Homo sapiens: one gene and its partner. The protein of the gene in region 2 purifies or fractionates together with the protein of the main gene of each other region. This does not show direct contact. Each region holds a gene or a part of one and is shown on either strand. Other genes may lie near its edges. The genes, in order: PREPL and TTC39B.

Region 1 (3,826 bases), on a different chromosome or scaffold from region 2:
ACGCAGAGGTTGCAGTGAGCTGAGATTGCGCCACTGCACTCCAGTCTGGGTGACAGAGTGAGACTCTGTTTCAAAAAAAAAAAAAAAAAATTAAGAACATTAACTTGTCTTTTTGTTGAAAACACTTTCCTCCATTTTGTTACCTAGATTTTAACTATTTACAATAGTTTTTGTGGTTTTTGACTTGAGTTTAATATTTTACGTAATCGAGACTGCTACTACCCTTTGTAATTTCTTATATTGATTTTATGTTTCAAAAATATTCCAACCAAGCTGACTAAAAAGCTTATATTTTCATCTTATTAAAAAATTATTTTTCTCAATGGGTTCTTTAAATCTCTTAGGAATGTATGCTGACATATACAATGATGAAAATTATTTTTTCCCAAATAGTATTTCCCATTGCATTATAAAATAACACCGATTCATTTTTCATTAGTTTGTGATGCCTTTTATCATATAAATTTTCACATAGACTAGGATCTATGTTTTAGAGTTATTCTAAGCTCTATTATTTGTCTATCAATTTGTATTATTTTTACTGTTATTGCTTTATATGCTTTAATATATAATTGTAGGGCAAGTCCCCTACCCTACTTTGCTCTTTATTTTCAACACTTTCTTCGCTGTTTTTATATATTTTTGTTTGCTTAGTTTGGTGATGACAAATTAAAAATAAACTACTTGACCAAATAGTTGTTAGATATGTGGTTACAGGAAGTGAGAACACAAGTGGCTCTAGGGTAAAATGTGTCTAAGAGAATATACGAAATATAAAGAACTAGACATTAATCTTTTTTTCCAATTATTTCTATCGACAATTATTTTTAAATTTAAAATGTATTATAAAAATAATAATGCTTATTACAAAAAGAAAAAAAGAAAAGTAAAAAAAAAACCATTGTTAGTACTTTGGGTGTATTTCCTTTCAATCTTTTAAAAATGCATCTTTTTTCCTTGATACCCAATTGAAACCATAGCATATATTTAATTTTTTCACCTAGCACAATAATACATTTTTGAGTTAGTTTTAATTTATAATTTAGTAGCAACACATACTTTAAATTCTTCTATATATTACTAAGAATTTAATGGTTAAAAGGTACTCAACAATCATCAGGAACAAGGGGTTTTAGTTTGAAAGAGAGATACCTATCTAAGTATATACCATTTATTTAAGCAATAGATACTGACTAAATAGCACTATACAAACCTGGCACCCTGCTTATCAATTAAGATGCAAAGGTGAAACAGACTCAGTCTGTTCACAATCTAGCAGTTCTAGGTCATCTTTATGAATTTACATGAATGAACTATGTTGTAATTCACAAAATCAATTTCAGTTTTTAATAAAATATTAGTGATATATCTGTATTTACTCTGATTTTGAATATTACCAGACTCCAATTTTGAATACAAACAACTAATAAAAGAATGATCGTTTTAGCCTTATTATTCCTGGTTCCAACCAAAATAAACGTTTTAAGTCAACCAAAGTCAGTACTTTAAATAACTGGAGGAAGGTTCTGGAGAGAAAGATTTAATTATATTATTCTAGTACCTTGGGTCTTTTTCTGTGTAAAAGCGTTCATTACGTTTGTTATCACCAAAAGTGGCTCGATATACGTCATGACAGCGAAGGTTCCTCTGGAAGGTGTAGAATAAAACATCTTCATCTTCCTCGTCCTTTACCCATTCTGAAAGAAAATAATGAGATAATTATACATAATCACCTACACTCCATTAAAAAAAAAAAAAAAGCACAGCACATTCTAATTTTGAATGCCAGTGAGAACATGTGCAAGTTTATCCCTGGAAATCTAAATATTTGACTGTATCTAATCTGTGCTGTATATAAGCCAGAGAGCTTTCCTGAGAATAAACCACTACTACACCATTCCAAGGTTTCAAGTAGTTATCAGTCTCAGGGTACTCAGGTTTCTAAATAAGAGCTAAATGCTCAATATTTAGGAAAGACATTGGTAAAGTCACATTTGCTTTTAGGAGGTGAATTCCGTCTCAATCTACAACTTGAAACTGTAAGTCTGAAGGAATATTGCATCTTTCTCTCATGTGTAAACCTTCTCTGTCTGCTTTCAAGCCACAGGATATCTCCAACTACCAAACACAATTTAATGCTGATTCTTGATCCCACCAGAAGCTGTCAACAGAAGTTTGCACACAATTACACCATGACTGCCACCTGGCTGACAGTGATTGTAAGTCATCATTGTATAATATGCACCATGATTTTAAAGGTTATAAAATGTACAAAATATATGTCTTAGAATTCAATAGTTAGGGTATAATTTCAATTCACTGCAACAACATTTAGTTAAACAATGGAGAAAATGATGGCTGAAAATGAAAAGGGAGGACAAAATGTAACATATGTACCACTCAATGATAAATTTAAAGTTAGTTCTATTACTAAAAATGTCACAGCTTCCATTGATAAACAGGTTAGTTCAACACATACCAAGTTCTTTGGTAGTGACTTTATGCTGTAACAGCTCTATAAGATAACATGAAATTAAAAAAATACATTCAAGCTTAAAGTTGAATAAAATATTAAGATGCAACTTACGTGTAAAAATTTATTCTAGATAATAATTTGGCAAATAATTCTGATAAATCAAAACATATTGTATGACATGGACTCTAATTATAACACTTTTAAAAACATGAGTATTTTAAAATTACCCATCTAGATATATAATTAAATAAGGGAAGGTCTCCTGAATAAGAGGTACATAGGAAGATGTATAGTCCATAGGGATACATGAATCAGGCATTCACCTTCTCCCTCCCTCACATGCGACAAAAAAATGTTTCAAAAGTGTTACCGTTGCCTTTCAACACAGAGGACTATTTTGGTTGGTGGCTTACCAAAACTGGACACATTCGGGAAAGAAGCTTCCATTACGGGCTGATCGCTGAGCTTTATAATTACACAGGTAGATGCTTCAGAATCTTCAGTTCTTATCTTGGCAGCCACATATTTTTCATCTGGAGCAACTCTGATACAATCAATGAAGGGCTGGTCTAACTTAAGTTCCTCCAAATTGAATAAAACTTCATAATTATCATTGTCTGCTGTATAAAGAAAAATACGAAAGTGATAACTTCAAAGGATGTACTTTAAAAAATTAAAACTGTATTTTAATGTTTTAAATTAGAATTCCCATTCTGTAAGAGGCCATATCCTAGCTTCTTTCAACAATGATGGCAGCTTAACTTGCACATCAACTGACAATAAGTTATTTAATATTACCTTATACTATTCAATACTATTCTGTGCATCAACCTATGAGACATTATTTGATATTGTTATAGTCTAGTTTAGTATTTACAGACCATACAGAACCTAGAAAGTAAGTGAATATAAATGACAATCAACAATATATGCCAAGTGCCTAGCATAGTACCCAAGACACAGCAGATGCTCAAAAAATGCTGGATGCCGTCTCCATTCTCCCTGCCAAAGCTTCTGAGTCTAACTATATCTTACACAAACCCAGATATTAAAAACTAGTCATTAAAAAAAAATTCAGAAATAATCTTTAAAAAAATCTTTTCTCTATCTTTGAGAAATTAATAAATTTCCTATAAAAAATATGAAATCTGAAAATTAGAGCACGTAAAAAGAAAAATTGTGGTGTACCTTCTTCATCTTTGGAACGAACCAAGCAACAACCTTCTTGGTAATAAACAAAACCACCATGTTTAACCTGACAAAAGAAACATGCAGTTTACTTAATAATAATTTAATTAACCTTTTCATAGTCTGACTATTCAAGATGAAGATGAAATGAAGACTCTTATA
Region 2 (3,826 bases):
TGCAGTGGCTCACGCCTGTAATCCCAGCACTTTGGGAGGCCAAGGCAGGTGGATCACCTGAGGTCAGGAGTTCGAAAGCAGCCTGGCCAACATGGCGAAACCCCGTCTCTACTAAAAATACAAAAATTAGCTGGGCGTGGTAGCAGGCACCTGTAATCCCAGCTACTCGGAACGCTGAGGCAGGAGAATCGGTTGAACCCAGGCTGTGGGGGCAGAGGTTGCAGTGAGCCGAGATCCCACTACTTCACTCCAGCCTGGGTGAAAGAGTAAAACTCCGTCTCAAAAAAAAAAAAAAAAAAAAAAAAAAACCTTCCAGGTTCCCATTTTTTAGGAGATACAACCCAAATTCCTTAGCGTGACATTCAGGACACAATGACTCACGACCCAAGTCAGCCTTTTTGGTTTCTGCCCTTGACACTCTCCTTCCCACTGTACCAAGTGCTCTCTTATTCCCGCCCATCTCAACTTCCCCCAAGGCCTTCCCACTGGGGAGCCCAACACAATCCCACTTGCCCTTTGAAACCTAGTTCAAATACCATCTCTCCTTTCAAGTCTTTGCCGGACCCTAAACAAGGGAAGCCAATCATCCCTGTTTGTACCTGTTGTCTTAGTGCAATTACTGAAAGCGCTCATTTACTCAGAGTGCCCTGCTTTGAATGATAAATTATATGACCTTCCTACCTAAAACCTACCCTAACCCAAAGATAGAAATAGTACAGTGACTTGTGTTAAGTGTTTTGCTTGACGTTGTGCTCCTCAAGGGTAATAACTGTCTTGTTTTAGTGTGTACATCCAGCATTTAAAGACTGTTAGGACCTGCCAGGCGTTCAATGAACGTTGGTGGAATGAAAGAATAAATCTCAGCTGGGAGCAGTGGCTCACGCCTATAATCCCAGCACTTTGGAAAGCCCAGGTGGGCGAATCACCTTTAGTCAGGAGTTTGAGACCAGCCTGACCAACATGGAGAAACCCCGTCTCTATTAAAAATACAAAAAATTGGATGGTCGTGGTGGTGCATGCCTGTAACCCCAGCTACTCGGGAGACTGAGGCAGGAGAATCACTTGAACCCGGGAGGCAGAGGTTGCCGTGAGCTGAGATCGTGCCACTGCACTCCAGCCTGGGCAACAGAGAGAGAGTCCATCTCAAAAAAAAAAAAAGAAGAAGAAAAGAAAGAAAATTGTGGTAATGAATTTTATCAAAACTTCATCTAAACTTCCAAAGAGAAATTAGCCAAATCAGAATTAGATCTAAAAATTCCTGGGCCAAAAAGCAGGCGGTAAAAACATGTCACATAAGCCATTTATTTCCTAGTCAGTGTCTTAATTTTTTTCATTATCAACCCTCAAAGGAGCCTAAGTATAAAGCTTACTTTTTTAATTCAATAACAGGATCAGAATGACTCAATAAATATTTTAAAAGTTAAGTGTAAGGTTGGGCACGGTGGCTCACGCCTGTAATCCCAGCACATTGGGAGGCCAAGGCGGGTGGATCACTTGGGGTCAGGAGTTTGAGACCAGCCTGGCCAACATGGTGAAACCCCATCTCTACTGAAAAAAATACAAAAATTAGCTGGATGTGGTGGTGGGCGCCTGCAATTCCAGCTTCTCCGGAGGCTGAGGCAGGAGAATCACTTGAGCCCGGGAGGCAGACGTTACAGTGAGCCAAGATCATGCCACTGCACTCCAGCTTGGGTGACCAAGCAAGACTCTGTCTTTAAAAAAAAGGCCGGGCGCGGTGGCTCACGCCTGTAATCCCAGCACTTTGGGAGGTCGAGGTGGGTGGATCACAAGGTCAGGAGTTCGAGACCAGCCTGGCCAATATGGTGAAACCTCGTCTCTACTAAAAATACAAAAAAATTAGCCGGGTGTGGTGGCACATGCATCACGCCACTGCACTCCAATCTGGGTGACAAAGCGAGATTCCGTCTCAAAAAAAAAAAAAAAAAAAAAAAAGCCGGTGCAGTGGCTCACACCTGTAATCCCAGCACTTTGAGAGGCCGAGGTAGGTGGATCACCTGAGGTCAGGAGTTCGAGACCGGCCTGGCCAACGTGCTGAAACTCTGTTTCTACTAAAAATACAAAAATTAGCTGGGCATGGTGTTGGGCGCCTGTAATCCAAGCTACTCGGGAGGCTGAGGCAGGAGAATCGCTTGAACCCGGGAGGCGGAGGTTGCAGTGAGCCGAGATCATGCCATTGCACTCCAGCCTGGATGACAAGAGCAAAACTCCATCCCCCACCAAAAAAAGAAAAAAATGTTTAAAAAGCTATGAACATTTGGCCGGGCGCAGTGGCTCATGCCTGTAATCCCAGCACTTTGGGAGGCTGAGGCGGCCGGATCACGAGGTCAAGAGATCGAGACCATCCTGGCCAACATGGTGAAACCCCGTCTCTACTAAAAATACAAAAATTAGCTGGACGTGGTGGCACGCACATGTAGTCCCAGCTACTTGGGAGGCTGAAGCAGCAGAATCGCTTGAACCCAGGAGGCAGAGGTTGCAGTGAGCCGAGATTGTGCCACTGCACTCCAGCCTGGGCAACAGAGGGAGACTCCAACTCAAAAAAAAAATCTATGAACATTTAACTTTATAACTGTATTTGCTGAGTGACTTTTAATATAATGTTAAATATAATGCATCAAATTATATATACAAATTATCAATTTCTATACCTACATAATAGCAATGTAATCAACTTTTCAAAAAACATTCAAAACTGTTATTTTCCAGCAAAAGTAAAACTATTGAAAAAATCATTTTCTGAAAAGTGATTTTTTTTTTTTTTTTGAAACGGGGTCTGTCACCCAGGCTGGAGTGCAGTGGCATGATCAGAGTTCACTGCAGCCTCAACCTCCTAGGCTCAAGTGATCCTCCCACCTCAGCCTCCAGAATAACTTAGGACTACAGGCGGGCACCACCATGCCCAGCTAACTATTCATATTTTTATTTTTGTAGAGACAGGGTCTCACTGCGTTACGCAGGTTGAAAAGTGATTTTTAGTGAACTTTTGTTTCATATGAGAAAAATTTTTTTTTTTTTTCTGAGATGGAGTTTTACTCTTGTTGCCCCCGCTGGAGTACAATGGTGCGATCTCAGCTCATGCAACCTCTGCCTCCCAGGTTCAAGCGATTCTCCTGCCTCAGCCTCCCAAGTAGCTGAGATTACAGGTGCCCGCCACCACGCCCAGCTAATTTTTTTGTTATTTTTAGTAGAGACTGGGTGTCACCATGTTGGTCAGGCTGGTCTCGAACTCCTGACCTCAGGTGATCCACCCGCCTCAGCCTCCCAAAGTGATGGGATTACAGGCATGAGCCACCACACCTGGCCTCATATGAGAAAATTTTTAACTTAATTAGCTGCTAGATATTAATTCAAATACTGTCAATGTTTTCCTTTTTGGCACTTGAGATAATTATTGGTGAGCTGAATAATCTTAATTGAATTAAATAATAAAATATAAATGATTTTCATTCAATTCTCAAATCCTTATATTTGAGGGCCAAATATAAGCAAGCCACAAGGCACCCAATGGTAGCCCATAAGTATGTGAAGGTAACCAACTAAAATGACTTCAAGATCAGGCAACTAGAGAGAAAGTCTTCCAACCACAGCCATCTCTACGTTATAAATTTGTTGGATTGACCTTGAATATATTCTGTACATCTTCCATGAATCCATTATCAATGTTGCTAGTGTAATACACAAGAAAACCCAATGAGAGAAATTCAAATATTAAGAAACAAGCTTTTGTTGATTGAGCTTTAAATGGCCACACACCATTATAATATCTAAGATGCTTGTGCTCCCCAATAACCAATTTTTGCCTCCA

Evidence for each region.
Region 1: the proteins of TTC39B (region 2) and PREPL purify together in Homo sapiens (affinity purification with mass spectrometry, with the first as the bait; one large-scale study listed by BioGRID). This does not show direct contact.

The regions. Positions count from the first base shown.
Region 1 is NC_000002.12:44,340,856-44,344,681, forward strand, and holds part of PREPL (prolyl endopeptidase-like), read right to left. Parts: intron 3,732-3,826; coding exon 3,665-3,731; intron 3,097-3,664; coding exon 2,890-3,096; intron 1,698-2,889; coding exon 1,562-1,697; intron 1-1,561. UniProt on the Homo sapiens protein: Serine peptidase whose precise substrate specificity remains unclear. Does not cleave peptides after a arginine or lysine residue. Regulates trans-Golgi network morphology and sorting by regulating the membrane binding of the AP-1 complex.
Region 2 is NC_000009.12:15,300,611-15,304,436, forward strand, and holds part of TTC39B (tetratricopeptide repeat protein 39B), read right to left. Parts: intron 1-3,826. UniProt on the Homo sapiens protein: Regulates high density lipoprotein (HDL) cholesterol metabolism by promoting the ubiquitination and degradation of the oxysterols receptors LXR (NR1H2 and NR1H3).